3 separate regions of the Homo sapiens genome follow, and regions 2 and 3 are each linked to region 1. The links come from fine-mapping of genetic effects on gene expression. A gene starts in region 1. Each other region holds a variant in brackets. All regions are shown on one strand. Distances are from middle to middle. Region 1 holds the start of RAPGEF5 (Rap guanine nucleotide exchange factor 5). Region 2 overlaps RAPGEF5 (Rap guanine nucleotide exchange factor 5). Region 3 overlaps RAPGEF5 (Rap guanine nucleotide exchange factor 5).

The links. PIP is the estimated chance that this variant, and not a neighbour inherited with it, causes the effect.
Region 2: its variant is the best candidate, but not a certain one, in a credible set for the expression of RAPGEF5 in pancreas (GTEx, PIP 0.72).
Region 3: its variant is the best candidate, but not a certain one, in a credible set for the expression of RAPGEF5 in gastroesophageal junction (GTEx, PIP 0.79).

What each region holds. Positions count from the first base shown.
Region 1 is chr7:22,351,369-22,361,898 of GRCh38, reverse strand. It overlaps RAPGEF5 (Rap guanine nucleotide exchange factor 5), which reads left to right and starts at 4,745. Exons shown (of 26, transcript NM_012294.5): 1 at 4,745-5,069. The coding sequence starts at 4,839. RefSeq lists silencers at 4,600-4,989, 5,050-5,279 and enhancers at 5,400-5,469, 9,678-9,727, 10,018-10,127.
Region 2 is chr7:22,251,812-22,262,341 of GRCh38, reverse strand. All of the region lies in intron 7 of RAPGEF5 (Rap guanine nucleotide exchange factor 5), which reads left to right. Among named protein-coding and RNA genes, the nearest start is that of RAPGEF5, 100 kb to the left of the region's middle. The variant GTTTTGT/T (reference allele first, on the strand shown) is at 6,744.
Region 3 is chr7:22,110,164-22,120,693 of GRCh38, reverse strand. It overlaps RAPGEF5 (Rap guanine nucleotide exchange factor 5), which reads left to right. Exons shown (of 26, transcript NM_012294.5): 26 at 1-2,458. Among named protein-coding and RNA genes, the nearest start is that of CDCA7L, 170 kb to the right of the region's middle. The variant G/C (reference allele first, on the strand shown) is at 3,774.

The sequences.
Region 1 (10,530 bases):
CACCTCTGTTTATTCTATTGGCCAGATCATTCACAAGTGAAACGGCTACATGGTCTGGGGTATATACCCAGGGTTCATCCTCCTGTGCCAGGAAAATTTAGGACACGAACACACATGAGGGGTTTAGGAGTGGAGGTTTAATAGGCAGGAGAGAAGAGAAAGAAAAACAGCTCTCTCTATAGAGAGAAGGGGGGTCTTCCCAGCAGAAAAGACTGGCTGGTGGTGGATGTGCCGGATTTTATAGTTCGGTTTGAGGAGGCAGTGTCTGATTTACCTAGGGCTCACAGACTGGTTCGATCAGGTGTGACGTTTACATAGCAAGTGGGGAAGACTGGTCGCCCCATGCTAATCTTATTATGCAAATGAATTCTCCCTTTGGCCTGCACCATCTTTTCTGGTCCTCACTGTACACATGGCTGGGAGAAAAGGGAAGTTGGAGCCGCCATCTTGAATATGTTTAGACCCTAGTTCCTGCTGACATTGACCTGTGCAAGCTCCCAGCTTGCTTGTCTATATCTGCAGCTCCACTTTACAGGCTGCTCTTTGTTAGAAAATGATTTGGTACTGCTTTTCATTATAAAGGAAAGTCTTTCCAAGGACTCCCATACCCTTACTATTTGCCTAAGTGATTTCTTCTTAACTCCTGTATCACAAAGTCTGCTCAAATTCAAAGAGATGGAGAAAGAAACTCCATCTCTTTTCGGGGGAGTGGCAATATCACACTGCAGAAGAGCTTGGAAGATAGGAGATGCTGAACTGTCCATCTTTGGACAATACACTCCACAACACCATCTGAAGTATTTTTCTACTGCTCCTATGCCCAAGGAGCCTTCTTTTGTACTGTCTAACATCTAACCCCTCATTTCTGTTTCCATTGCCGCAATGAATTCAGGCCCTCATCACTTTGTAGCTAGCTCATTGTCAGAGCTATCTTCCTGGTCTTCAATTTCGCTATCCTGCCAATAGCCTTAAAATTTGTGTTTTCTTACCATGGGTCTTTACACACACTTTGACTTTGATGATCTCATTCTCTTAAGTAAAATTCAGCTCTGGTACCCCATCCTGTAGGAAAAATTGCAAGTGGCTGGCAAGTGGTCTCGTTGACTTGTGTGGTTGGCACAAATATGATTTACATTAAAAGAAATTTTTTTGGTCAGGCGCAGTGGCTCACGCCTGTAATCCCAGCACTTTGGGAGGCCAAAGCGGGCGGATCATGAGGTCAGGAGATCGAGACCATCCTGGCCAATATGGTGAAACCCCATCTCTACTAAAAATACAAAAATTAGCTGGGTGTGGTGGTGCGTGCCTGTAATCCCAGCTACTCGGGAGGCTGAGGCACGAGAATCGCTTGAACCCAGGAGGCAGAGGGTTGCAGTAAGCCAAGATCGTGCCACTGCACTTTAGCCTGGTGACAGAGCGAGACTCCATCTCAAAAAAAATTTATTATTATTATGGGTAAATCATAGCTGTACATATTTATGGGGTACATGTGATGTTTTGATACAGGCATAGAATATGTAATGAGCAAATCAGGGTAATTGGGCTATCCATCACCTGAAGCATTTATCATTTCTTTGTGTTAGGAACATTCCAATTCCACTCCTTTAGTTATTTAAAAATATACGGTAAATTATTTTTAACTATAGTCACCCTATTGTGCTACCAACAGTAGATCTTATTCATTCTAATCCATTTTTATATGATTTACATTTTTATAAGCTTTCATACTGCAAAATCAGATTTTGTATAGAAATCCAGATTAAACTGTTTGAAAAACTTAGTTCTTATATATGAAATAATTGAATTATTCAACTCATGTGTTCTAGATACTGAACAAAAGAGAAAAGAAGCCCTGTCCTTATGTCATATACATTTTAGTTGTGGGGAGGCAGACAATAGGCAAAATAAATAAAATATATAGAATATGGATGGTGGTAAGCTCTGTGGGGCATTCGGAAGGGGATGAAGAAAGGAATGGATAGGAAAGACTGCAATTTAAAATCACATGGTCATGGAAGGCCTCACTGAAATGGTGACATTTGAATTTAAAAACTGAAGACACTGACTGAGAGAAATGTGGATTTCTAGAACTGCACTATCCAACATGGTAGCCACTAGCCATATGCTGCTATCTAAATTTATATGAATTAAAATTAAACAAAGTTAAAAATTCAGTTCCTCAGTCACCCTAGCCATGTTTCAAGTGCTCAGCAGTCACATGTGGCTAGTAGCTGCAAAACAGATAACAGAAAATGTGCATCATTGTAGAAAGTTCTGTTGGACAGCATTGCAGAGGACTCTCATTCCAGACAGGGCACAGCGAGTATAAAGGTTGCTTGATTTGAGTTAAACAGTGACGTGGCTCTTCTGTGTACACATCCTACTATTCCCTGTTGTTTGCCTATTTTTATCCTGAAGCTAAATGGCATTTGTCATTTATCACCTTAACCTAAACCAATTTTCCAAAGGCCCTTCTTGAACTTTAGACGCTTGGTCTATCCCATAGAATCTAAGGAATGCTGGCCTTGCATTGAGCAACTGTGTGAATGGGTTTGAAGACCAGGAACCTGGACCAGGAGACGGAACACGTGTTCTACTTTGGAGTAGAGTAAGTTCATGGTATGATTCAATGTTGTCATTGGGGTGATGGGGCGCAAGCACCCACTAATCTGAGTGTCCTGGAGGGCTTCTAGTGGGCCAGGTGTTCACCCTTTAGTTGTATGTCATGGGGAAGTTGGAGGTATGGGGGTGAGTGGCACTCTGGGGCTCAAGACAACGACCAATTACCAACTGGAGCTGCAATATCTTAACACTGTAAAAACGGATAGAGTCTGACATGGTAACATACAAATGCAATTTCAGCCTTGGATAAATGCATGTGATAGGTATTTGGAAACTGTAATGGACTATGGAGTCCTATTATAAAGTCCTTTCCAGTTAACACACACAGCTTAAGGTGACAGGGTTTAAGGCCTTCTGCAGTGTGTTACTAGCATCCATTCTGGTATCTTCTCTTACTTCTTCATTATGTCATCTTTCCCTTCACTAGCATGACATATTTTCAGTGCCCAGTGAGTTCTGTGTGATACCACCTTTGTGTTTTTCTCATGTCTTTCTCTCTTTTTTTTTTTCTTTTTTGAGACGGAGTCTCACTCTGTCGCGCAGTGGCGCAATCTTGGCTCACTGCAAGCTCCGCCTGCCGGGTTCACGCCATTCTCCTGCCTCAGCCTCCCGAGTAGCTGGAACTACAGGCGCCCACCACCACGACCGGCTAATTTTTGTATTTTTAGTAGAGACGGGGTTTCACCTTGTTAGCCAGGATGGTCTCGATTTCCTGACCTCGTGATCCGCCCGCCTCAGCCTCCCAACGTGCTGGGATTACAGGCGTGAGCCACCGCGCCCGGCCTCATGTCTTTCTTCCTTACTTGAAGGACACCTACCCTCCTTCTGCCTGGTTGAATCTTCCCCACTCACCCTTAAGGTGCAGTTTAAACTTCCTTCCTTTCGTGGATTTAGCTTTGCCCATCCCAGGCCAGAAGCATTTCTCTCTCCTGTGGCCTGAAGTGGTCTTACCTACACTTACTTGGCAATTAGCAAGAGTACAAGTGCAATATCTTTGTTTTTCTGGATGTTTGTCTACTCCTAGGTTAAGTCTTACCTTCCTTAAGGGCAGAGGTCACAGTTCGTTCCTCCTTTTTTGTTACATGGCATGTTTTTATACATATTTGCCAAGCACCTACCATGTGAGTGGCTGAGGGCACAATGGTAAACCAACTCTGGACCCTGACCTCCTACGATTCTTGTCATTTTTTAAAAATGTGAATAAGCTTATTCAACTTTTGTAAGTCTTAGACAAAGATGGGGATCCCAGCGCCCCACTGATGAGAAGTCAACACCCTGGCTGGCCCTTGTTGAAGACAGATTGAGCTGAGATGTGAACATTCACACTCCCTGGCGTTTAAGGCACTGCTGGAATAGTTTCACTCTCAATGATCCAGAATTCCTGCCTCCTGGAAGGGTGTAAACAATGATTCACACCACGGCAGGCCTTTACAGTTCACCAAGCACATTCATCACAGCAGCGGGCTTTCAGGGAAGGTCAGGTTCTGACATGCTAACAGAGATTCACCTTCAGGTCACCAGACTTGCAGCTACTCTGCTCAACACCTATCATAACCAACAAAAGTTTTCTCCCTTCGTCCTTTAAGGATGCGTGTGCCAAGAAGGGTCGGCGCAAAGCAATTTTGCCTCATGGTGTTTGCCTTGTAGCGTGTCTATTTTGAAGTTCCTTGGCCAAAACAGTTCCCAGGAGTAAAGATTACGATGAGGGGCCAGGCTGTGCAAAACGCGCGGGAGGGCGGACGACTCTCCAGCACACTTGGTTGAAGTCCAAGTCAACCCCTGGCTATTCGAAGAAGTGAAGCAGGACTTTTCAGCCTAAGGGGTAGGGGGACAGGGACAGGACAGAAGAGCGGGTTTGCCGGAGATTCTGGGAATTCTGCACCTGTGGATGAGCCGGTGCCCAAGGTGCCCTCTTCCTCCCGGGTCCCGAGTGGGAGATCCGAGGGGGACAGGTCCCAGGCAGCTTTCGCAGGCGAAAGGGCGGGGCGGGGCGGGGCCCGCGCACCTGGGCGGGGAGGGGAGGAGAGAGGAGGGGAGGGGAGGCGCGCGGGGCTGAGCCTCGCGGGGGCCGCGGCGCGCGCCAATGGGCAGCGGCTGGCAGCGCGCCCCGCGCCCGAGCCGCAGTCGCGCCCTCTCGCTTCCTGGCGAAGGCGCGGACGGCGCGCGGAGGCGAGCGCGGTGGAGAGGAGCCCCCGGCGCCGCAGCGCCGTCAGGGCATGAGGATGGCCGTGGGCTCCGTCAAGATGCAGCCGCCGTGCGAGAGCCCGGCCCTGGCCGCCGCGGCGGCGGTGGTGGCGGCAGACGGCCCCCTGCGCCGCAGCCCCAGCGCCCGGGAGCCCGAGCGCGAGCAGCCGCCGGCGTCGCTGCGGCCGCGGCTGAGGGACCTGCCCGCGCTGCTGCGGAGCGGGCTCACGCTGCGGAGGAAGCGGAGCGCCGCTGGGGGCCGGGTGAGTGGCCCGGCCCTGTCCGAGTGGGCACGGGCGGCGCGCACGTGGAGCCCGCGCCCACCCCCCGGGCCGCTGAGGGGGGCGTCTGGAAGTTGGGGAGGTGGCGGAAGGGACGCCCTTCTGCCGGACTCGGCTGAAGAGGGGCCCGGGACGGCGGGTTTTGAGGTGCCACCCCCTGAGCGACGGCTTCCCCCGCCCCCACACCTCCCCCCCACCAGGCTGCACCTGACTTAACCCCAGGGCCCCCAGATTCAGGCTGCGGGACCGGGCATCGGCTGAAGACGAGCTGTTTGCCTCTTCTCGGAGGGGAAGCTGCAGGTGTCCAGCGTCCAACAGCCAGCCAGCCCTGTCCCAACCGCAAGCTTCAGGCCCCACGAGCGGCATCCCTGTTTGCAGGACGCATGCGACGTGTGTGCTTGTTTTGGAGGTGCTGTTGCAAGCTCTGGGCATCGAGACTGGTTTTGGTGGTCTCCACCGCCGAGGGGCAGACCCAGGAGTCGGAAGCTCTTGGGTGAGCTTCCAGTTCCTGGGTTCCGGTGTCTCCAGCACTTAATACTCCTGGACACCCTCTTGAGCAGGAGGGTGCACGCCCCCAAGAACCTTCAATATTGACTTCCTGATGGTGTGTTCAGATACGATTTCCTGGTGAAGGAGTGTCCCTCATTGAGTTCTAAGTGCATCTAATGACCTGAGCAGGTCAGGCATGTTTTGTATTTTTAAGAGAAGCAGGAAGGTCTGCTGATTGTCTCCTGGGATCTTTAAGAAGCCACCTAGGAGGCCCCGCCAGGGCCTCAGGACACAGAGCTGACTTACTCAGATTTCCCTGCTCACCAGGGTTTGGCGGCACCTTTGGTGGGTTCTACTCATCTTTTAAAAATTTATTATTAAGTGGTCTTTAATGAGAAGCTGCATCAATGTGGTTTTTCTTTCCCGTTTGGCTGTAATTTTTAAAATGCAGTCTTGTCTGACTTAAAACAAGACCTTGCTGGGAGACTTCTAGCTCTTTCAGAGATGGGTTTGTGTAAACTTGAGAGTGAGGGATAACCACTTGTTTTCATGCGCCCTCCTTTGGGTAGGGAAGGGTCTGAACTGATGTCGGTCTTCAGCTTCTCGAGGCTGCATCTCTCTTTTCCTAGGCATTTTCCATCTCAGGTGGAAAATGGTCCATCCCAGGTCCATCTCAGAAGATGTTCTGAGGATTCTCTGTGTGTGATGGGACATTCTTAAAGTCGGTGACCCAGAGAGTTTAGGAATTGCCCACAAGTGACCTTAACATGTGTGGCATTTAGGATTGCCTGCAAAGTAAGTGAGGAAATGTGTCCCCAAGATGTGGTGTCGGAATAAACAAGAACTGGAGTTATAGACTTTGCAGGAATCCAGGGAAAAGTAGGTCAAATTATGTTTCTATTATCCTTGACGGTTACTTTTTCATGGCACAGAATACTGAAGACATGAGGGCTGCCAGGCAGTCTGCGACAAGAATTGCTGAGGGTTTCTGTATAAATAGATCTATAGTATTTATTTGCGTTCATACTCATGTTTCTTGCTGCCTGGGAGGGTGTCGTATACCTTGTCAATATACCTATTTAGTTTTATTTTTTAATTACTCTGAATGTGGTTACCTCAGATAATGTATGCTTTATTAACCCTCTTTGATTCTAATACTGTATTATTTCTTTTTGGGACTTTCCAAACACATTTCGTAACTGCATAGCCAGTTTTTATTGAAGGAAGTTTGATTGTCAGTTTTTCCAGTGTTGGAAACCCATACTTTTTGACTATTTATTTGACTGTTTATTTCCCCTTTCTTCTGCCTTGGAACTACCTTTGTGATTTTGGAATCTTCCCCATCAAAGGAGTAGGAAGGGGGTTGAAAGAAGGAGAAAAACAAGTGAAATATGAACTTGTCTTAGGCAGCTCAGGCTGTCATAACAAAATACCGTAGACTGGGTGGTTTAAACAACAGGAATTTATTTTCTCACAGCTCAGGATGCTGGGAAGCCTGAGATCAATGTGTAGGCTGATTAGGTTTCTGGTGAGGGCTCTCTTCCTGGCCTGCAGATGACCACTTTCTCGTATATCCTCTCATGGCCTTCCCTTGGTAAACGCAGAGGAAGAGAGGGCTCCCTCTTCTCATAAGGCCACTAATCCCATCATGAGGGCCCCACCATCATGACCTAGTCTAACCCTAAATAATTATCAAAGGCCTCATCTCCAAATAATGTCATGTTTGGGGTTAGGGCTTCAACATAAGAATTTTGTAGGGGGCATACACTTAACAGTCCAAAACACAGGGGGTTTGAAAGAAAGAGAGATACAAGTAGAATATGTATCAGACTGGTTGGTTGGTGACTTGTTAGCATCTGGGATTGTCTGGTTAACCACCTTGGATTGGGCAGTGATGCTAATGCAAACAAATCATGGCTTGGATCTTTTTGTAGACCTTCAGCTTTGTGTCTCATGGGCCATACCTCCAGACTGGAGCTGCGTGACTTCAGGGATAAGTTAACAGAAATCCATTACCACTAGTAAAGACACAGCTTTGTGCATTACATGAGTTAGTTGAGTTTTCATCTCCTATATTGACCAAGATCTGATTTAGGAATATGTGTGGTCCTTATCCATGCTGCCCTGGGCTCCCACAAACCTGGACAATCTGACATCAACTGACATTAACAAAGTTCTTTGTGGGTTGTGTTGCTCAACCCAGGTGCATTATAGGCTTTTTTTGTTGTTGTTGTTTTGTTTTGTTTTTTTTCTGAGACAGGGTTTTGCTCTGCCACCTAGGCTGGAGTGCAGTGGTGTGATCATAGCTCACTATAGCCTCGACCTTCTGGCTCAAGCGGTCCTCCCACCTCAGCCTCCTGAGGAACTGGGATACAGGCACACACCACCATGCTTGGCTAATTTTTTTTTTCCTATTTCTTTTAGAGACTGGGGGTCTCACTACGTTGTAGGCTATCTGTTACTAGGAAAAAATCAAACTGCCATTTGGTTAATATGCCTGAGTTCCTTGGTTCCTCAGTTCAGTCACTTCTAGTTGTGTTGAATTCAGCATGCATACTGGTTAAGACTCTTTGCACTTCTTTAAGACAAATGAGGGAAAGACTAAGTTGTACATTGTGGGAGGGCCCTAACTACCTCTTAAAAATCAGTAGCAAAGTAATGCACAACCTGAGTTCCTGACAAAACCCTTTAATTTTTTTAATTGTATAACAGAGATTATGAGAGAATGGTATAATGAACACCTGTGCTTCAACAGTTATTAGCATTTTGCCAGTCTTGTTTCATTTATTTTCCCCCTCCATACACTTTTGTAGGGGCTAGTGCATTTTAAAACAAAATTCCGTACATCATGTTGTCTTACTCACAAATTTTTCAGTTTACGGTCCTGATAAGGACATTAAAAACAACAGCAAAACTTTGCCTTTTTCACACCTAAAATATTAATAATTTAAAAATATAATTTCCATATTCAAATTTTCTCAAAGTTGTCTTTTTACTTATGATTGTTGGAAACAGGAGCTAAATGAGGTCCACATATTGTATTTAGTTGTTAGGATTTCTAATTTATTTTATAACAGCTTCCCCTCCCTTTTTTCATGCCAGTGATTTGCAGAAGAGAGTGGTTCATTTGTGCTGTAGAACATCCTACTGTCTGGACTGATTCCTTGTGGTGATGTTTAGCTTGTTCCTCTATTCTGTTTCCTGTGATCTGGCAGTTAGATATAGAGGTTTGATTAGATATAGGTTCAAAGACAAGTAACCTTCATGGATGGTGCTGTGTAAAATCTATTGCATCACATCGTGAGACGCATAATGTCTGGATATCTCTCTTTTTGAGATGGAAAGATTGATTCGTGAGTTTAGGTAGTGTCACTTAGCTGTCTGTCTTCTACTTAATGATTTTAGTATCACAGATCGTTGTAGCCTAGATCCTTTTCATTAGGGGTTGCAAAATGGTGATGATCTAAATCCATCATTCTTCTTGCATTTATTAATTGGAATTCGGTCTGTAAAGAACTTTCCCTCATAAATTATTTAGGTCTCCTGAAATTCACAATGTGCAGGATAGACAGGGAAAAGTCTTAATTTTTTCCTTTTACCAACTATCAGAGTAATGATTTGGTGCTTTAACAATCTCCAGTGAGAACCAGTGAGTTTTTCTTTTTTAAGTGTCATTAAGAACTTATGAATCTTAATGTATTTGTTTCTGTCACTTCAGTCAATATCCTTTTTGGTGCTTGGTTTATCTTTGTCTCCTGTATACTTTTTAAATGGCCAGTAAACTCAAATACCTTTCTTACTTTTCTGACGCAAGATATTCTAAGTGCATCTTGTCCATAGTCTGCTGCTCCCGACCTGAAACCCTGAAATCAGCCATTTTCCCAAGGAGCATTGATGAATTTTTTTTTTTTAAACTGACAATCGTTCATTTCCCCATCTTTTACCTTTCTTAGTGGTTGCATTATTTTTCCCTTGGTCTTAAGCCTCCTACCTTACTTTTTTGTATCTTTTTAAGTCTTTCTCATCAGGTTGTTTCTAAGACTGATATTTTCCCCCTAATAAAAGAACTGATAACAGCTATTCCCTTTTTCTGTATATACTGTCAAAATGCTGGGACTGACTTATTTTGGGCTTTGGCTGCTGTGATGTTTTCTGCAGCCTCTGCCACTGTCTTCAACGTCTTGGTATCTGTTTCATTTACAGCAGCCAGAATGATTCACCAGTTGTGCCAAATTGCTCACCAAAGACCTTCAGTGATTCCCAGCTTTTGGATTGGTCATCAGAAGGGCCTAATTCTCTTTAACCACCCTTCACTAGCCAGGGTTCTTATGGCCTGTGCTCTTCAAAATTGAGAAACTGGGAAGAACAGCTGGTAGCCCTCTGAATGAAGTTCTCTCTTTTTCTTTGCCCAGATGATTCCGTCTCAAAAAGGAACAAAGTATCCCTTTCCCTTTGTACAAGCTGGAGTGCTTTAGCTCTGACTCAATACCCTCCTCTGCTAGAAACTTGACTTTATTGATTGAGAAATAGAAACCGATCCAAATTATATACCAGTATGCCCAATGTATCGCCGTTTTAGGCACCTATTTTACAGGCAAAGCATGTCATTTATTCTTTGTGTTTAAATTGAAATCAATGGCTAACATCATAGCACTTAATTATGTACCATGCATATTCTGATATAAACTTCAACTCTCACTACAAGCCTATGAGCCTATGAGTTAGATGCTGCTATTTGCATTCCACAGATGAAGAAACTGAAACACAGGTGTAATTTGCCCGAGGTTACAGAGTGTGTGCCAGAAGGGAGGTTTGCATCTATGTATCCTGTTTCCGTAGAGCCAAGTCCATGCTCTGAATTAACTTTAGTTTTCCTCAAATGCATTGAGAGGGCAAAGGGTCTATTTACTCTAAACTGTGATAGCCTTATAGTACCTGCTGATATTATCTTACC
Region 2 (10,530 bases), 100 kb after region 1:
CGTTTCCCTGATGGCTAATGATGTTGATCTTCTCAAGTGCTTATTTGCCATCTGGATGTTGTTTTTGGTGAATTGTTTGTTGATGCCTTTTGCCCATTTTTTAATTGAATTGCTTTTTTTTTGTTTTTTATAGTTGAGTTTTGAGAGTTCTTTATGTATTCTAGGTAGTAGTCCTTTGTTGATAAGGACTGGTTGGCAAATATTTTCTTCTAGTCTGTAGCTTGTCTTTTTCATCCTCTCAACGAGTCTTTCACAGATCAAAGGGTTTTAATTTTGATAAAGTCCAATTTATTAATTTTTAATGAGTCTTTTAATGCTTTGGGGTTAAATCAAAGAACTATTTACCTAGCTCTAGAGTCCAATTATTTTCTATGCCTTTTCTTCCCCTGAAAGTTTTAGTTTTATGTTTTACATTTAAGTCCATGATCACTTTTGAGTTAGTTTTGATATAAGGTATGAGACTTAGGTCAAGTTTCTCTTTTTTTTTTTGGCCTATGAATGTTCAGTCACCTCAGCACCATTTGTTGGAAAGACCATCTTTCCTTTTGCACCTTTGTCAAAAGTCATGTGGGCGTATTTGTATGGGAGTATTTCTGAGTTCTTTGTTCTGTTCCATTGAACAGATTCCATTGGTATCCATCAATACTACAATATTGATTACTGTAGCTATATGTAAAATCCATTTTTATAGGATTAATATTATCGTTATTATTTTTGAGACAGGGTCTCACTCTGTTGCCTAGGCCGGAGTGCAGTGGCGCAGTCACAGCTCACAGCTCACTGCTCACTGCAGCTTTGACCTCCCAGGCTCAAGCAGTCTTCCTACTTCAGCTTCCTGAGTAGCTGGGGCTACATGCAGGCATGTGCCACCACACCTACCTAATTTTTTTTATTTTTTTATTTTTGGTAGAGAGGGGTTTTGCTTTGTTGTTCAGGCTGGTCTTAAACTCCTGAGCTCAAGGTACGTGGTGATCCTCTCACCTTGGCTTCCTGCACCCAGCCTAAATTTTATATCAGTAATATAGTTTTACATCATTTTTATTAATTGTATATACTAGCAGTTTAATTCTCGGTTGTACATTTAGGTTTTTAGTTTTTTTTCCATTGTAAATAATAATAGAAGAACCTGAATGTATATTTTTGTATATATCTCTTTGTGCCCTTTTCCAATTATTTCCTCATAATAAATTACTAAATGTGGAATAGCTAGCTGTGGACAGCGTTAAGGTTTTGTTTTTCACGTTTAGGACTTTAAGTCCTCTGGAATTAATTTTATGTATATGGTGTGATGTGGAAATCAAAATGTTTTCCTTATGTTAAGCCAGTTACCCTATTAGCATTCATTGAATTCTTTGCTCACTGATCTATAATGCTTACTCCATTATATATGAAGTTTATATATATGCTGTGCTTGGATTTATTTCTGGTCTCTGTGTTCCACTGATCTATTTACCTTTCCTTGTGCCTACACTATCCTGTTTTAATTACCAATGCTTTATAATAAGACTTCAGGGGAGAGTGGGGCATTGGGTGGGTAAGGCAAGTCTCTTCTTACTTTTCTTGTTCTCTTCAAAGTTTTAATTTGTCAAGTTCCATGAAAGTCTCTATAGGGATTTTTTAAATGTGTATTTACCTTATAGATTATTATATAAATCAGATATTTTTGAGATAATGTGTTTCTATCAATGAATATAGGGTATCTTTCCCTGTACAAGTCGACATTTTTGTTTGATGTATTTTTAGGTACCTTGTAGTTTTGATTACTGTTGTAAATGAACTATTTTTTGTAATATCTTTTTTTTTTTTTTTACTGGTCCTAATTTCTGCATTGTGTGATGGTTCCTCAGTCTTTTTCTTTAATGAAATTTCTCTTTTTTTTTGATAGACTTTATTTTTTAGAGCAGTTTTAGGTTCATAGCAAAATTGAATACAAAGTGCAGAGAGTTGCTTTATACCTCCTGCCCCACACATGTACAGTCTCTCCACTATCAGCATCCCACTCTGGTTTGGAATGTTACGTTTTTTACAATAACGGAACCTCCATTGACATGTGGTTATCACCCAAAGTCCATAGTTTAGGGCTCACTCTTGATGTTGTACATTCTATGGGTTTGGAGAAATGTATAATGACATGTATCCACCATTATAGTGTCATACAGAGTAGTTTTACTGCCCTAAAAAATCCTGTGTGCTCCACTTATTCAACTCTATGTTCCTCTAACCCACTACAACCATTAATTTTTTTTTTTTTTGAGACGGAGTTTTTGCTCTTGTTGCCCAGACTGAAGTGAGTGCAGTGGCACGATCTCCACTCACTGCAACCTCTGCCTTCCGATTTCAAACGATTCTCCTGCCTCAGCCTCCCAAGTAGCTGGGATTACAGGCACCTGCCACCACACCCGGGTAATTTTTGTATTTTCAGTAGACGGGGTTTCACCATGTTGGGCTGGGCGTGGTGGCTCACGCCTGTAATCCTAGCGCTTTGGGAGGCCAAGGTGGGTGGATCACGAGGTCAGGAGTTCGAGACAACCATTAATCTTTTTACTCTCTCCGTAGTTGTTGTCTTTTCCATAATGTCATATGGTTGGAATCGTACAATACGTAGCCTTTTCAGACTGGCTTCTTTCACTTAGTAATATGCATTCAGAATCTTTTCACGGTTTCAGAGCTCCTTGGTTTTTAGTGCTGCATAATATTCCACTGTCTGGATGAACCAGTTTATCCATTTACTTACTGAAAGACATCTTGGTTGTTTTCAAGTTTTGGCAATTATGAATAAAGCTTTGGATATGCAGATTTTTGTGTGAATGTAAATTTTCATCTCTTTTGGGTAAGTACCAAGGAGTTTGATTGCTAGATCATGTGTTAAGAGTATGTTAAATTTTATTAGAAACTACCAAGTTGTCTTCCAAAGTGGCTATACTATTTTGCATTCTTACCAGCATAATTGAGAGGTCCTCTTGCTCCACATCCTCACCAGCATTTGATGTAGTCAGTGTTCTAGATTTTGGCCATTCTAGTAGGCCCTTTTAATAGATGTGTAGTGATATCTCTTTGTTTTCATTCACAATTCCCTAATGACATATGATGTTGAGCATCTTTTCATGTGCTTATTGTATGTCTTCTTCGTTGAGGTATGTGTTCAGGTCTTTTGCTCATTTTTTAATTGGTATGTTTTCTTATTGTTGAGTTTGAGTTCTTTGTATATTTTGGATAACAGTTCTTTATCAGATATGTCTTTTGTAAAATATTTTCTCTCCATAGCTTGCCTTTTTATTTTCTTAAGTGTCTTTGCAAAACAGAAATGTTTTTATTTTAATGAAGTCTAGCTTATCAATTTTTTCTCGCATGAGTCATGCCTTCGGTTTTATATTTACAAAGTCATCACCAAATCTAAGGTCATCTAGATTTTCTCCTATGTTATAGTCTAGGAGTTTTATAATTTCACATTTTACATGTAGGTCTGGGGCCCATTTTGAGTTCATTTTCAAGGGTGTAATGTCTGTGTCTAGGTTCTATTTTTATTTTATTTTATCTTTTGCATGTGGATATCCAGTTGTTTCTGAACCACTTGTTGAAAAGACAGTCTTTTCCCTATTATATTGCCTTTGCTCCTTGTCAAAGATCAATTGACTATATTTGGGTCTATTTATGGGCTCTCTATTCTGTTCCATTGATCTATTTGTCTATTCTTTTTTTTTTTTTTTTTTTTTTTTTGAGACGGAGTTTCGCTCTTGTTGCCCAGGCTGGAGTGCAATGGCGCGATCTTGGCTCACCACAACCTCTGCCTCCCCGGTTCAAGTGATTCTCCTGCCTCAGCCTCCTGAGTAGCTGGGATTGCAGGCATGCAGGTGCCACCATGCCCAGCTAATTTTGTATTTTTAGTAGAGACAGGGTTTCTCCATGTTGGTCAGGCTGGTCTCGAACTCCCAACCTCAGGTGATTTGCCTGCCTCGGCCTCCCAAAGTGCTGGGATTACAGGCGTGAGCCACCGTACCTGGCCTGTTTGTCTATTCTTTCAACAATACCACACTGTCTTGATTGCTGTACCTTTACGTTAAGTATTGAAATTGGGTAGTGTCTGCCTTCCAACTTTGTTCTTCGCTTTCAATCTTGTGTTGACTATTCTCAGTTTTTTCTCTCTCCATAAAAACTTCAGAATCAGTTTATCTGTATCTACATCTATTATCTCTTCTAGTTGGCTCTTTTTTTGTTGTATGAGAATTTTCGATTTTGTGTCCCTTAAAATTGTTGAACTCCAATGAGTTCTAATAGCTTCCTTAAAAATTATCTTGGATTTTCCACATGGACAAATTCATCATCTGTCAATGATGACTGTTTTGTCTATGTTTACCAATGCATATAATTCCTTTTTTCCCATATTATAATATTTCATTAGAGCCTTGCAGTATAAGTTTGAATAATATCAATGATAGTTGTCATTCTTATTTTGCCCCTGACTTTAATTAAATATAATGTTTTCTGATTAGAAGAGCAATATAAATGAAGAAGATTGTATTAGGAAAAAACAAAGACATTTCTTTCTTACAACCCCTCCCCACCCTGAACTACAATACATTTGGGAAACAATCTAGGGGTAAAAATAACCAACAAGATATATATTACTGTATTCAAAGAATTCAAATATGGAAATATTAGAGATACCTGACTGATTCACTGTGCATTCTCAATGCTTGAGTTGGCATTGAGTGTGGATGTGAAGGAACAATGGCAAGGTACAAAAGAGCCTAAGTCATAGGTATTGTATTCATTTGTTCCTTTATCAAACCCTAGCTGGGCACAAACTATAAGCTGAATGCAGTGTAAGACACAGGATACAATAGTGAGCAAGGACAAGTATGGCCCCTGCTGTTTTAAAATCATAGCATATGTTTCATAAATAGAATGCATTAATGAGTCAGTGACTGTCAGAGAAAGGTAAACTTCTTATTGTGATTTTAGGAGGTGATCAAACGCAGAACCATTAAGCATGGCCTTAATTAAGTAGAGTTCCAGCTGCAGAATGGTGTTTTCTATGTATGCTTCTTATTTTTAAAACTATTGAATACTTTTTAAAGGAGAAGAAAAATAAGCTAATATACATCAAATAAAAAAGTATTTAAAATGATAGCTGGCACATCTGGAGCTTGACAGAAGGAATTGATTACCCTACTATCTTATGTCTTGTAGTAAAACTGTTAATTAGGGCACAGGTGGTCCTGCCGGATTTCTGTCTAACTGCAAGAGGTTATTAAAATGAGCATTAATGTAAAAAATTTTTAGTTTCAGCCCACTGTACAAACAGAAATAAAAGTAACTGCCAATCAGTGTAGGTTTTATGAATAATTAAAGGCTGTAAGCTTAGTAAAAAATCTATTTGTTGTAATTTTCTAAAAGGCCATTAGGATGTGCCTTTGAACAGTTTTCTACCCTAAGAGCGAACCTTAGTGGATGTGAATAGCATTTTAAGGCTTCATAAGATTTGCAGAAATTTGCACAGATATCCTTGCACTTCTTTCTCGTTGTTGGATTGCTTATTCTCCTGCTAATGTTGGCTCATTAGTGTCTTGGGAGATGTGTTACTTCCCTTTTCCAGGGAATCCAAAGCACTTTTAGCTCTCATTATCTTTAGATCATATGAAATTTGTGCCATGGTGGGCTTCTATTTCTGGAAAGCCAGAAATCTCATAGTGGTAAATCTCCTTGGCAGTGTTTAAATTTCACTCTCTGTCCTTAGCCCATAGCTAGTTAAGTGTTTTAAAACTAAAGTATCTGGGATTTTAAAGTTTGAAAAGGAAAGAAGGACCTCCAGGCTCTGTTTTATTTTTGTCATTACGTGTCTTTGCGACCTCGGCTTTGTGATTTCAATTTGTATCTTGCAGGGGCTGGCGTAAAATTTGGTAACCTCAGTGATTCCTTCCAGCTCTAATATTTAAAAATCCTGTTCTAACAATGTTTTCACTTTTTACATTCATTCACCTCAGTCACAACCTTGGGACTATTTTATTCAGGATTATTTTAGGTGCATGTGACAGAAAAACTAACTGAAAACCAAAAAGGGAATTTTTTGCCTCAAGGACTCTGTAGAGTTTAACAGTCTCAGCGAGGGATTGTCCTGATAGCCCCAAAAGAAGCTTTGCTAAGCGATCTTGTTGGAAGGATGAAGTGCCCACCTCTGGAGCAGCAGGAGAATGGCAGGGGGAAGTAGACAGGTCAAGTCAACCCCACACAAGCAAAATACATGGCTCTACAAAGAACACCAGCAGAGGGGAGAATGGCTGCTGGGCAGGCAAGAGTAATGTGATCACCCCAGAAGGAATTGTTTGCACTGTCTCAATCACAAGATTTAGAGAGGAGGTGCCACCCTGAGACTCACACAGGCTAGAAAGTCTGCAGGCAGAATGCAGACTCAGGTTTTCCAACACCTGGTCTCTGGCATTTCCAGCCACACTCCCACTCTTGATTAGTAATTTTCAAGATAATGAGAGTAAATATGTAACTTGTGAAAAGGCATTCTTATTCTGCTTTTGTTCCTGGAAATTGAAAGGAATGAATTGAAAACTCATAAACTCTTCAAGTTGTGGGTAATAACATTTTTTCTCTCTTTCTAGGATAAACCAGCCAGGAATTCAGGTTAAAGTGTTCTTCATGTACCAAAATATTTTACTAAGATATTACAATATATATGATATATCAAAGTGTATAAAATGGTTTAGCCTATTGTGTTTTTGGTTTTGGTTTTG[GTTTTGT/T]TTTGAGACAGTCTCATTCTGTCACCCAGGCTGGGGTGCAGTGGTGTGATCATGGCTCACTGCAATCTACCTCCCAGAGTCAGGTGATCCTCCCACCTCAGCCTCCCAAGTCACTGGGACTACAGTCATGTGCCACCATGCCCAGATAATTTTTAATTTTTTTTTTGGTAGAAATAGGGTCTTGCTATGTTGCCCAGGCTGGTCTCAAGCTCCTGGGCTCAAGCAGTCCTCCCGCCTTGACCTCTCAAAGTGCTGGGATTACAGATGTGAGCCATGGTGCCCAGCTAGCTTATTGTGTTTAGCTTTTAAAAACATTATTATTTTTAAGAGGCTAGAACGGATAAGAGAGAAGCCAATGTTTTACGTTAAATTGTTTTTTCTAAGATCATATAGGATACATCTTTGATTCCTATGTTCAAAGAATGTATCCTATATGACCTTATAATCCTGTATTCAAGCTTAAATAGGCATTTGGGGTGGGCATATGGTTTCAACAACCTGCTAACTCTTATTTGCCATGACAGTGAACTCCAGGTAAAACATTCAAGTAGGAAACCCCAGGATCTGGTAATCAAGGTGGACCTGTTAGACTCGGGGTCCCCAATCTCTGGTCGATGGTTTGGTGCCTGTCCGTGGCATATTGGGAACTGGGCTGCACAGTAGGAGGTGAGTGGCAGCAAGCAAGCATTACCCGCTGAGTTCCACCACCTGTCAGATCAGTGGCAGCATTCGATTTTCACAGGTGCGCGACCCCTGTTGTGAACTGCACATGCAAGGGATCTAGGTTGCGTGCTCCTTATGATAATCTAGTGCCTGATGATCTGAGGTGGAACAATTTTATCCCAAAACCATCCCATCTCCCCCTTCCTCTCCAAGTCCATGGAAAAATTGTCTTCCGTGAAACTGGTCCCTGGTGCCAGAAAGGTTGAGGACTGCTCTATGAGACAATCTGAGGGGTTTGATTTTTTTTTTTTTTTTTTTTTTGAGACGGAGTTTTGCTCTTGTCACCCAGGCTGGAGTGCAATGGCGCGATCTCAGCTCACTGCAACCTCTGCCTCCTGAGTTCAAGCGATTCTCCTGCCTCAGCCTCCCAAGTAACTGGGATTACAGGCATGTGTCACCACACCTGGCTAATTTTTTTTTTTCAGTAGAGACGGGGTTTCTCCACCTTGGTCAGGCTGGTCTCAAACATCCCACCTCAGGTGATCCGCCCGCCTCGTCCTCCCAAAGCGCTGGGATTACAGGTGTAAGCCACCATGCCCGGCCTTTTTTTTTTTTCTTTTGATTACCCTTTGTCTAAAGTCCCAGCTTTCCAGATCTACTGTGAGTAACAATCACATCACCAGTAACACGATTTTGGAAAACTTAGAGGTTTTAAGCCCCCTTTTCAAGTATATGTATGTAATATTGGGAGCAGTCACATGTTAGCAGGACTCACCATGCGAGGCATTTGTGAGGTTTGAAACTGGACACCAGTGAAAAGGCATATTCTACTTTGGAGCAGAATATTCCAAAGACAAGATATTCATATTGCTTTGTCACAAGAAATGAAATTGATGATAGAATATTTTTAACAGTATAAATAAGGCTTTCCCTTTTTCATGTGTAGAAGAAAAAAATAACCTTTATACCTGTGGAATAGCTTCTGCTTTTATGGTCTTATAAATTTTTACTTTTTATTTTTAGTTGACAGGTTCTTCTTTTAACGTAGCACCATATTAGACTTTACCTTGATCCTTTGGTAAATACATAGCTAATATTTAGGAGAATGCATGACAAATGGGATTTTAGAATGGATGTTAGTAATAAAATTAGGGTCAGCAAAGACAGGCTGACTTGCTTAATATAATTATTGTCATCTCAGATTTCCTTTACCTTTCTGATAATATGTGTTTAATTTTTTTGGAAGAAATTTAAGTTATCTTAAAAAGCTATAGAGATATTATTTTGAATGCTCTCCTTTTGATCTTCTTTCCATCTAATTGCTGAGTGTTCTAATAAAGAGTGTTTACGCTAAAAAATGCTACGTTATAAGAGGAGTCTGTTGGCTGTATTTAAGTAATTAAAAGTTTATGCTTATTTTTTGGTGGTATTTTCAACCACGTACATTTCCCAAGACTTTCACAGCCTCTCAAAGGATGGACCAGGATCCTCTCAGAATTGATTTTTCCAGATGGTTTGTTTCTGTCCTTTTCTTTTCTTTTGCCACATCCTCGATACTGTGTCCAGCAGCGCCCATCACTCTCATTTCTGGTCAGCACAGGCCAACACCGATTGTCTGATAACCCCGCTGAATGTGTTGTTTAGCATTTGTCAGCCAAGAGGAAAGAAGTGTCATGTGTTTTCCCCTAAAATAATCAACACAACATTCTTGTCTTCCTAATTGATTGATGATTCCTAGGATGTTTTCCCCAAAAGAGAGAGCTTTGCCTAACACCATGCTGATTGTTGAAGTTTGTAAAATCTGTCTCCTTCTCCAGTGCTATAATAACTCATTGTTCTAACATTTCCAGAGATCGTTCTTCTGTCCCTGCTTGCTGACAAATTTTGTATATTCACGTCCTGTCTCCACCAGTGCATGTTCTTGTTGAGCAGTGATCAATTCAATGTTTGATGGGTTGTATCTTTCTTTTTTTTTTAAGTGAGATAAAACCATCATAAGAATCTTAAAACAGTAATTCTTAATGCATTGTAAAGTTAAAGCATATTTGAAAATGTAAAATTCTTACAATCAAGAAAGTAATAGCACTGGTAAAGCCCAGGAATAATTGAAAATGCATTCAGCAGATGCTTTGTAAATTTTTTCTAACTCTCCCACTGGGATACAAAGAAAATTGCCTTTAAAAAAAGTCCCATGACACTATCTTTTGTAATTAGAGCTATTAAGTCGAAATGATAAATAACCATTCAATGGCATACTATAAAAGAAAATAGCCCTTTTCACAGATTTCTCCTGATGAGCAGGAGATCTGAGAGTAGTGAGTATAAGAAGTTAGATTCCTTTAACCCTGAGAATTGTTTAGAATTAAGAAAATCAGAAAGCAAGGCAAGATGATTTTCTTTTTAATCCTTCAATATGGTCATGCCCATTAAGATAGTAAATGAAACAGATTTGCCAAGGAGGTGAATAATTATAACTACAGCAGCGCATACTCCAGAATCCAAGGTTTTTGAGGTCTTGGTTTTCAAAAATACTTGGGGCACTTCAGTCAAGCTGTGTAACACTTAGTAGACAAAGCTAATTGAATTGCTGTAAGTGGAAGCTTGTTCCTATTGTAGGGAATTTGATCCTGGGAAGAACTGAACACTGATGGTGCCAGTAAGGTGACGTTGCCCAGAGCAGGTTACTGTCTGGTCTTGTGTGGTCCAGGACAATGATTTTAAGCTCTTCAGAGTCCTACTTCTTCTTGCACATGTTTTATACACATTGCTAAGCCTGGAGAAACAGTTTCCTGAGACATTGAGCAGAGAGGTGGGTGTAAGGCGGGGGAGAGGCATTAAAGAGAGAATCAAGTTTTCTAGTTGAGAGCTAAGAAGCAGCTTCCAGCATTGCAGCTCCTGGGAACATGTTTTTTGTGAGGAAACTAGATGAGCATAATGAGTGTACCCTGTGCATAAATCCAATATTAGTTCTGTACCCAAGGTCAAATGAAAGTTAATGACCATTTACACACCAGAGATCTGAAACCCACATTTTATTTCCTTCTCATAATGACAAAAGGGGAGAGCAATTTATATTTAAATTAATTTAAATTTCAAAGCATAAACACAGAGGTCTCCC
Region 3 (10,530 bases), 240 kb after region 1:
CTGGTCCATTCAGAGAAATGCTGCATGCTGCCGTCATGGAATGTGGCCCACAGGACACCAGAGCCGTGAGAACCGGAGAGCAGACTTCCCTCACGGCTGGGCTGAGCAAACCCTCCAAAGCCCTCCTCACGCAGTTACTAACAATAGCATGGGCTTACAGCACAAGCACGTGTTCTCACCTTTTTCCTATGCCCTGGACTAAGGTTTGGCCAGTGTAATCATATAAGGCCATCCTGACATTGTTTCTGTGTTTCAAAATTTGGATTTTTATTTACATTAGAACTACATTGCTCCTAGTAGAACATTACCTTTAGGGGACTAATTTTCCATGGAGAACTATTTCAGCATATTGCATGCTGCTCAGACCCCAAGTCAGATATGCCCACCAAGCCAGATGAAGCTACACAAATGTGGTATTTAAATGCATTTTGTACAGTGACTTCAGAGTATCTCACATGACATGGGTGTAAACTGGCTGGGGAGAAAATGATGCTTGTTCACCTCTTCCTCCAGCCGTGGTTAGGTGGTCCTAGGGGTAGCAGAGGGAAGGGAGGATTTTGTGCAGTCAAGATTTGCTTTTCCATCCTTGTCTTCTGAATGTCTAAAATCTCTGCATCTTTCTGAAGTTTAACAACTGTCTCCAGAGGTTTGCCAGGCAGCAGCTCTCAGAAGTTTCCAAAGCTTTGCAGAATCTTAGATCTGGAATTAAAGAATTCAAGCCCGAATTGTGAGAACCAGATATTACTCAACAGAAAGCTCTTTCTAAGGAATCTGAGCTGTTCACTGGTGGACAGTGGTGGGGCTTGAGTGCTCCTTGTTAATAGGATGGGCCATGCACCCTCTCTGGATATTCACCAAGGCCTCTTCAGAATAGGGTTTGTTCTGGCTAGAAGCGTGGTCTAGAAGATGGCTAAGCTCTTTGCCAGCTCTCATTTGGAGTTTTATTATTGCATAAAATCTTCGCTCACTCTGCAAATCTTACGTAATCTGGCACCTTCGGCACCAGGTGGTGCAGGGGCACTTCTAAGTGGGCTCTTTTTGTTACAGCACAACTCTCAGACAGTCCTGTGGGTCTTTGGATTCGTCAGCATTCCAGCAAACTAGCCCTGCTTAGAAGTTAGCACAAGACAGCAGAATGCAGGACCCCGTAGGCAAAATCACAACCTTGCTATTAAAAAAAATTTTGTTTTACATACACATTTGCAGGTGTTCCCTAGAGTGTGGTGTTTTGAATTTGCTCTTTGTCATCTGTATAATTGCCAAATGATTATAGTGATACACATGACCTGCATTCACTTTTTTCTAGTTTCCTTAATTATGTTTAGAATAAATTCATTTCCCTAGACCGAGAACCACAAACAGGTAGTGTGGAGCATACACCGAATTTAGAAGCATGTGGATAAGGTCAGTGCTCACACTGCCTAGTCCACAGGGAGAGGATGCTGCATGAATATATACTTGCCTCTGAGTGGAGGAGAAATCGTGGCATGAAAGAGAGAGTACCAGTGATGACTTCTTATCCCTGGAGCTGGGCTTTCACTGCTACCCATATCCCAGCCCTGCGAGTCTGTTCTAGCCAGCACAGACACCGCAGATCCGGAACTGAATGTTCCTAAATGGCGCAGCCAATCCAGGCTTTTCAGAAACTGGGCAAAAACATTAAAATGGGGACGATCGGGTCTTCCGCAGTGGTCCAACACAGGATTTCTTTTAAATGTTTCAAAAACATGTCCTTAAAATTTCAGCCTGCTTCTTAGCGAGTGGGCCAGTTTTGCTTAAAACTGGTGGGGGGGCGGGGGGGAAGTTTTTAAAAATTGCCAAAAAGTTAGATGCAAATGTATTACTGTATAAAGCAAAGCTGTATATACTAAACATTTTTTAGCAGAGTAATATTTATTTGCATAGTCTATTTATTGTATTCGTATCACACTGTTATTAAATACTGGGATGAAATCAGTGACCTGAAGCAAGAAATCTTGCCTTTTAATGTATCATTAATTAGGGCTGCTGTGATATTGTCAGCTTGCATTAACAATTAGAAGATAGAGAACCCGCCATCAGGGTGTCTACCTAACTTCTCAGGGACTACACTTGGTAGTTTTCCACCATTTAAAGAACTGGTAAATATGAAACATTTGTTGAGTTACCAGAATTGCCATTAACAGTGTTTTCTTTCCCATATTCCATGCTTTCTGCCTCTGTGTATATATATAATATATATGTATATGACTGTGCTGTGTATTTATCGAAGCTAGTAAGCAATAATTTATATGTAAAAATGGCCAAGCAATATAAGGTTAAAACTTATATAAGTAACCCTTACCTTATCTTGTATTTTCAATTTTTTTTTAAAACTGCTTTTCCAAATATGAGACTATGTTAAAGACACTATTCATGCCTCTTAGTTTCTTGCTTTCTCTGTGATGTGTGTGGATTAAATAGCTCTGTTCTGGCAGCATATGATGCTCAGGGGGTTGGAACTCAGAAGTCATTTGCTCACTGAAAGAGCTACAAGTAGATGAAGAGGTTCTCAGGCAGCCCATAGAAGCCTAAATCACTTATCCTGCCATTGGGTTATTGCAGAACCTAAACACCCTATTTTGGAAATTGCATCAGTGTTCTCAGAGTCTGAAATCTGGGGAATCTGGCAACCATTGTCATTGCCTCACCCTACTTGAGCAGGACCAGGAACTGTCCCTCACCAGCCCAGATACTGAGTGCAGCTACCAGCCCAGTGGTGATGCCCGGGGCCCAGGATAGAGGTCCTGACAGCGGAAGAGCCATGAGTGGATGGAGCAGCACAGGGATAATAAGGATGCTCTGGGGCAGTGGGATGCCAGGCGGTATATACACTAGCGCAGACTGAGTGTTCAGCATCTTCTCTCTGTGTAAACAGGAAATTTGTACATCTTGCCCATCGAGGTCAAGTTTGGCCTTTGGCATGTGTCCATCTCCCCCTTGCAGGGGGATTATAAACCTCACCTTCTTGAACCCAGGAGTGGCCCAGTGTCTTGCTCTGTCCAGTGAAAAATGGGGAGACATGTCTGTGGAAGCTTTATGAGGTAGCCTGCACCTGCCATGCCTGCTGTGCTGTGAGACCTGCCCTGCTCCAGATGAAGGCACCCCTGTCAGCCTGGGTCCTGGATCACAGGAAACATGGAGCAGAGTCCTGGCTTGTGAACGACGTCTAACTTGAGTGAGAAATCAGACATCATCACTAGAAGTCTCTGAGGTCTGGTAGTGGTTTCTTACTCAGCAGAATGTAGCCTCAGCTGACTAATACAGTCTCTCAGGACAGTCTTTTCTTGACAAATTGCCCTTTCCCTCCGTCCACTTGTGGGCGGCAGTATTGGCTCAGCACAGTACCTCGTGGATGAAGCCACCTGTTGTCGCACATCCATGCAAAGGGCTTGGCTTTTTATGAGAAATGGGAAAGAAGACCTGAAGATAATTTTCTTGGGTTTTTCATCACCAGGAAGTGGCACTTCTGTGAAACAAGGGGAAATGGGAAGAGAAAACACAAGGGCATTGTCTCTAAGGCAGCCACTGGAAGAGAGAAGTCCTGATCCCTAAATCACTTCATCTGTAGGGGCTGACCCCATGGGGTCCTCCTGGAACCTGGAGAATGCAGGAGATGAAGGGAGAATGGGAAGAAGCCCTAGGTTCCAGCTTGGGAAGGGAATAGGAAAGAAAGAGAAATACCCATTGCTAAGGACGTGATGAGATTTTCTTCAATTTCGAGTGGGATAGCCGGTACTGGGAAGATGCACAGG[G/C]CTCCCGTGAACTCAGAAGCCTGTTCCTGTTAGCAAAACTCAAAACTCAAAATGAAACTTCTGGTCCTGGCCCTGGTGCACTAGCAACAGAATCCTACTCAAGGCATGAGGTTGCGTCTGAGGTTTTTTGTCTGAGGTCTTCTGAATACCCCATGAGCCTTTGCTCTTCATTCACTACTTTCAACAAATGAGATTCCTAAAGCATTAGACTTGCTGATGTTCTTTACTGAAGTACTCCTGTTACTGAAGGCAGCAGGAATTTCTCTTGCCTAAACAGAGCCATAGCAGTTCCCCTTCCCAGCACCTAAGCAGCAGGGCTGACTTTCTAGGCAGAAAGTGGCATCCTGAGGACTGAGCTAGTGCAGGGCTCCTGGGGAATGCACTCAGATCCCTGATCCAGCCAGACTCAGAGCTGGGTCCAGTCGCATTTCTTTATTTTGTTTCTCCTGCCCAGGAGAAACTCGGCCTGTGTTTGGCCCCACTGTGGCTTCTAATCATCCATCCTTATCCTGGGGATGGGGGTCTTCCAAGTGTTGGGAATTGAGACAGTACCCTATGGTTAGCTTTATGGGCATTTCTGCCACAAGGTCATGTCACTGCTCACCACGGCAGTCCCATAGTAAACTCTGTAGCCACCTTCTGAGTCCACTGCTCTCCCTCCAGCCTGGAGTTAAGGAACTTCCAAATTCTCCTCACGTGACACTTGTGAACCAGGGTAAACCAAGCCCCCCCTGTCTAGCCATATCATGTCACCATTATTTTCTGCTACAGCCACACCGTGAAGAAGATCTCAACAGGTCTGGAAATCTTCCTCTAAAAGAACAAGCTCCCCTGTTGGGGATTCACGCCATTATCTCTGGGTGGTTCCTATATTCCCAGGTTTCCAACCTGGAAATGGGTGGGTAGAAACGCCAAGTTCTCCTGGTTGGACTTTTCCTCTCCCTGGAAGACCCTGAACAGCAGTCCCAGCCTCAGAGGCTGGCTTGCCCGAAATGCCACCATGGGAAGTAATAGTGTACCCTTGTCTCTGGAAGGCCCCTCTTACTCACAGACATCTGGAAGTTCCCAAGTTGTGTGAAAGTTCCCAACTTGAGTGAAAATCACTTCCTGAGAAAATCCCTCTACTGGTCACCTTGTTCTTGGGGTCCCGACCAAAAAACAACACGACATCAACAGAGGGCAAAGACATTGAAGTCTCAAAAGCAATTAAAGCAATTAGCCCACCTGGAAGCCTTGAGACAGCGGCAAGAGCTGCTGCCCAAGTTCTTCAAGTTCTTTTTTTTTTTTTTTTTTTTTGAGATAGGGTCTCACTCTGTCACTTAGGCTGGAGTGCAGTGACATGATCACAGCTCATGCCTCACTGCAGCCTCAACCTCCCCGGGCTCAGGTGATCTTCCCACCTCAGCCCCCCTAAGTAGCTGGGACTACAGGTGTGTACCACCATGCGTGGCTAATTTTTGTATTTTTTGTAGAGATGGGGTCTTGCCATGTTGCCCAGGCTGGTCACAAACTCCTGGGCTCAAGCAATCCTCCCGCCTCAGCCTCCCAAAGTGCTGGGATTACAGGCATGAGCCACCGTGCCCTGCCCTTCCCAAGTTCTACAGCAACAACAGGGCTGTGGTGTCTCAACTCTCAAGTCCCTTTCAAGGTGGGAAATCTGGAGGCCAGACTGAGAAGGATACGTATATACCTCTGTGTAACTGTGTGTGTGTGTGTGTGTGTGTGTGTGTGTGTGTCTTGGCCCTAACTAGAGCAGCCCAGGCCACCAGAATTGCCTTCAGGACAATGAGCTCTTCCCCATCAGAGATGTGCAAACAGACCCGAAATCAACCAGCAGAGATGGTTGCAAGGGCAATCCAGAAATCAGATGACAGCCGTCTCAGGAGACTTTTAAGACCCTTTCAGCTCACGGTGGTTAGGAAAGCTGGTGTAGACCTGCAGTTGCCAGAACTAATTAGTTTTTTGGTGTTTTTTTTTAAGTGACTTGACTAATGTAGGAAATAAGAACTGTTCATGCTTCTTTGTATTCAGTTGACCTGGGCTAGGCCTCAGAAGCTGGAAGGGAAAAGGCCGTGGGAGGATGCCGGAAAGGAACACCTCACCCCTTCCCTGTCCTGTGCCCACTGCTGACTCCACAGTCCTACCAGGGATGAATGCCTGCAATAAACAAACAGAAAAGCCCCTGGAATCAATGCATCACGGCATGCTGCCAAGTGCCAAGCTGGCTACTGCCTCCTTAAGGGTAGGGACTTGGTCCGCCTGGCTCCTCACTGTACTCCTGGCCTCCAGCTGTGCAGCCCCATCCTGTCTCATCTCCCAGCCTCCCTGCCGGGCCCCAGCACTCAGGTCTGGCCTGTCCCTTCTCTGCCCACTCGACACAGTGTGCCCAGAACTCCTTCTCTACCTACCAAATAAGGATTGGTGCACTCTGAAGCCCTCCTGGATGTCCCATCTGACATCGAGCCCCTGCCCCCATCTCTTATCTGAATTCCTGCAGCCGATTGCACCTGCTACTCTTTCAGGAACCACCTTCCATTATCAAGAGCTGGGAAAACTGGCGAAAGTTTCTACCTTGCTCTTCACTGCTGTTTCTGCATCTCATAAAATGCTCCCTACCTCACAAGGTTGTGTGAAAAGTAAAATGAGAAAGTGCATATAAAGTGCGAAATACAGTGCCTGGTACATAGTTCACATCCAATTAGTGATACTTTATGTGTGTGTATGTGTATGTGTGTGTGTGTGTGTGTTTAAAAGCAAGGTCTCACTCTGTCACCCACAGTGGAGTTCAGCAGCATGATCTTAGCTCACTGCAGCCTTGAACTCATGGACTCAAGGGATCTTCTAGCTTCAGCCTCCTGAGTAGCTAGGACTACAGGTGAGCACCACCACACTGGGCTTATATGTATGTATGTGTGTGTGTGTGTGTGTGTGTGTGTGTGTGTGTGTATATAATTTTTTTTTAAGAGAAGAGATCTCGCTATGTTGCTCTGGATGGTCTCAAACTCCTGTGCTCAAGCGATCCTCCAGTCTCAGCCTCCTAAAGTGCTGGGATTACAGGCATAAGCCACCACGCCCGGCCTGTTATTATTATTAATACAGGATGCATGCCAGAAGATGTGTACCCACATTTTTCCTCAATCATTGAATATACATGGCTGTGGGTAAGTCATTTGACTTCTCTTATCCTCATTCCCCTTCTTGTCAAACAAGATAATAGAACATTTCTATCACAGGGCAGTTGTGAGAATGAAATGGACAATGCATGTGCGAGTTCTTTGTTCATGCTAAAGTGAAATAAGAATATGAGAGATTTCCTTTTGGAATCCCCTCATGCCTTGCACAATGCCAGGACAAAGCAATGGCTCCCTAAGTATTGGCTGATTTATCTGAATGAAGGTATCTTCCTATAGCTTGCCAAGTTGGGATAATACTCCTGTTAGTATTCATGCTATTATTATTCCTGTGTTTGGAGGCAAAAATGCTGACTAGACCTTGGGCCACAACTTCTCTGAGGACTGGGCAAAGCGCTCTTGCTAGATGCCACCCCATTCCTTTCCCTGCTGGCCCTCTGCAGGGACTCCAGGCCAGGAATCCCTGAACAGCAGCTCCCCTTCCAAACCTTGAGCTGCTGGTTTGCCACATGCAAGCGTCATCATTTCTGACAAGGGCCTGAAAACAGCAGGCTGTTCACTGTGCTCTGTGGTGTGCTCTGTGCTTGGAGGAAATCTCTGCTTTCATTTAGAACGCAGTCTGCAAGCTAAAGGGCAGAGCCTGCACTCTGAGGCCTGGGTTGAGATGAAGTCCCCATTGTAAAAGCAGGAGAGGCCAAAAAAGGGATGGTTCACCCTGGGCCCCATGTTATACTTGCATGGTGTTTTTCTTCCTTAAATCAACCAATAGCTGACCCCCTCACCCACCTCTCTCTACCTGGTAATATTAGCTCATTCACATTAGTCTACAGTGGCCCTCATCAGCTCCATCTTCTATCCTATGTACTGATCATCTACTGTATGCCAGGTACTATTCTAGGTGATGGAAAAACAACTATGAACAAAGACCCCCCCTACTTTTTTTTTTTTTTTTTTTGAGTCAGAGTCTCACTCTGTGGCTCAGGCTGGAGTGCAATGGCGCCATCTTGGCTCACTGCAACCTCCGCCTCCTGGGTTCAAGCAATTCTTCTGCCTCAGCCCCCCGAGCAGCTGGAACTACAGGCACCTGCCACCATGCCTGGCTAATTTTTGTATTTTGAGTAGAGATGGAGTTTCACCATATTGGCCAGACTGGTCTCTTGGCCAGGCTGGTCTCAAACTCCTGACCTCGTGATCTGCCCACCTCGGCCTCCCGAAGTGCTGGGATTACAAGCGTGAGCCACTGCGCCTGGCAAAGACCTCTTCTTCATGGACCTTTGATCCAAGGAAAAAGGCCATAAACAGAACAGGTAAGTAACATGTAGCAGACACATTAGATGGTAATAAGGTTCTCAAGAGCAAAAAAGCTAAGGCAGGGAAGGGCATTAGGGAGTGCCAGGCTCCCTAACTGGGTGGGATCTTAAGTAGGGTACCTAGGGAAGTTCTTTGTTATGAGTTTACATGTGTCTCCCTAGAATTTAATATTTAAAGTCCTAATCTCTGATACCTCAGAATATTACCTTTTTTGAGATAGGGTCTTCACAGAGGTAATCAACTGAAAATGAGGTTTTAGGGTGAGCCTGAATCCAATGTCACTGGTGTTCTCCTAACAGGGAAATTTGGAGACAGACACAGGCAGGGAGAACACCCATGTGAGCATGAAGGTGGCCACTCATGCTGGGGGTGGGGGATGGAGGGGAGTACCTGGAGCAGACCTTTCCTTCACAGCCCTCAAAAGCAACAGACCCTGCGAGCACCTTGATCTCAGACTTTCAGCCTTCAAAACTGTGAAGCAATACATTTCTGTTGTTTGAGCCACCCAGCCTGTGGTATTTTGTTACAGTAGCCCCGAGAAACTCATGTAGCTTTGCTGGGAAGACCTGAAGGAAGTGAGGGACCCACCCATGCAAATCCCTGGGGGAAAAGCATTCTGGGCAGAGGGAACATCAAGTGCAAAGGTGTCGAGTGTGCCCCTTGGAGTTCAGCAACCAGCGAGGATCCTGGTGCAGCTGGAGCCAGTCAGGAAAGGAAGAGAAGCAGAGGAGGTCAGAGATAACTGGGGCCAGATCACATGGAGCCTTGATGTTTACCTTAAGTCAGATGAGAAACCACTGGAAGATTTTAAGCAGAGAAGGACATGACCACTCTGGCTACTGAATTTCAGACCAAATAGGGGCAAAGGTGGAAGTAGGGAAATCCGTGAGCTTATTGCAATAATACAAGCAAATACCATGGTGACTTCCACCAGGTGGTGGCATGGGGTGATATGACATAGAGTCATTCTGGATATATTTAGGAAGATACATCTGATATGGTTTGCTGATAAATTAGATATGGAGAAAGAGAAAGTTAAGAGTTAACCACAAGATTTTTGGTTTGACCAGCTGAAATCATGGAATTGCAACTAATTGCAATGAAAAAGACCTTGGAGATGGCAGGTTTGAAGGAGAATAGCAGGAACTCAGTTCGGGACATATTTGGTTTGAGATGTCCACTAGATAGACATGGATTGGAACTAACAATAATCTCTTTGTACCAAGTCTGACTTGTGTGCTTGATTTAGGGGACTTTCTACATCATCCACATCTGGGATTTCACCAGTCAAAGCCATTCTATGAGCTGGGGTGTTGTGCTGGATGAATACTTGCTCAATAATGATGCTTCAAACCTCCAGGTCCAAGCTCCAAGCATTGTCAGCACAGCCATGTGGAGCAACTTCGATGCACAGAACCTCTTCAAGTCCAACCAAATAGACACCACCCACTTGGGCAACAAGCCATCTCAGAGGGCAACCACCTCATGGGGCTCTCGACACTCTTCCCCTAGCAACCATACTTCAACTTTGACTTCACGGTTTGTTTAGTGCTGCCTTCTCATTCGGGCCTTCCTTTCCAGAAGAAATGTAGAAATATGAATTACACTTCTGTCATTAGAGATTCCAGAGGCTTCAATTAGGCAAGCTGAAATAAAATCTGTCTAAAAGACACGTAGTAATAGGCCTTTGAAACAAGCTTCGAGGTGGTCCCAGACATTCAGTTCCAATTTCACATTGCATAGCCAGAAACAAACTTGTACCTCAATGGGAAAGAACTTTTCAGACAGTCCATTATTTTTTTATGTTACCTTCTTTTGTCATCAAAAAATGATCTGGATCTCTTCTCTCCTCCTCACTTAAGTAACTTTTCTTCATGTCCTGGGTCATGCCCCAGGAATTTTTATCTACAAAGTGCTCAGCCTGGTGCACAATGCACATTCGCTGCTTAATAAATATTTGTTGCCTGAGATGCGTGCTGCTGGCATGACCAAAATGTGAGACGTTAGCGACATCTGCTGGGGATATGGTGATGGTGTGCAGAATTTAAGTCAGAAATGCATGTTTTTGAAGGGCTGAGTTAAATCAAATGCCACAATGGGGCACTGTTGGAAGCTTATGTCTACAGTGATGAGGCCATGGCTTTGCAGCTCTTCCTTACCAGGATGTGGTCCAGTGGGTTATTGTTCTCCTACAATATAATGCAGCCTTGTTTTTTTAAAAATACAGAAATCAAGAAGATGGAAAAGGAGCTGAACTGGGGAAAGCTGAGGTTTGCACAGGTCTGTTGGCTCCTAAGAAAATGAAGAAAGTGAGG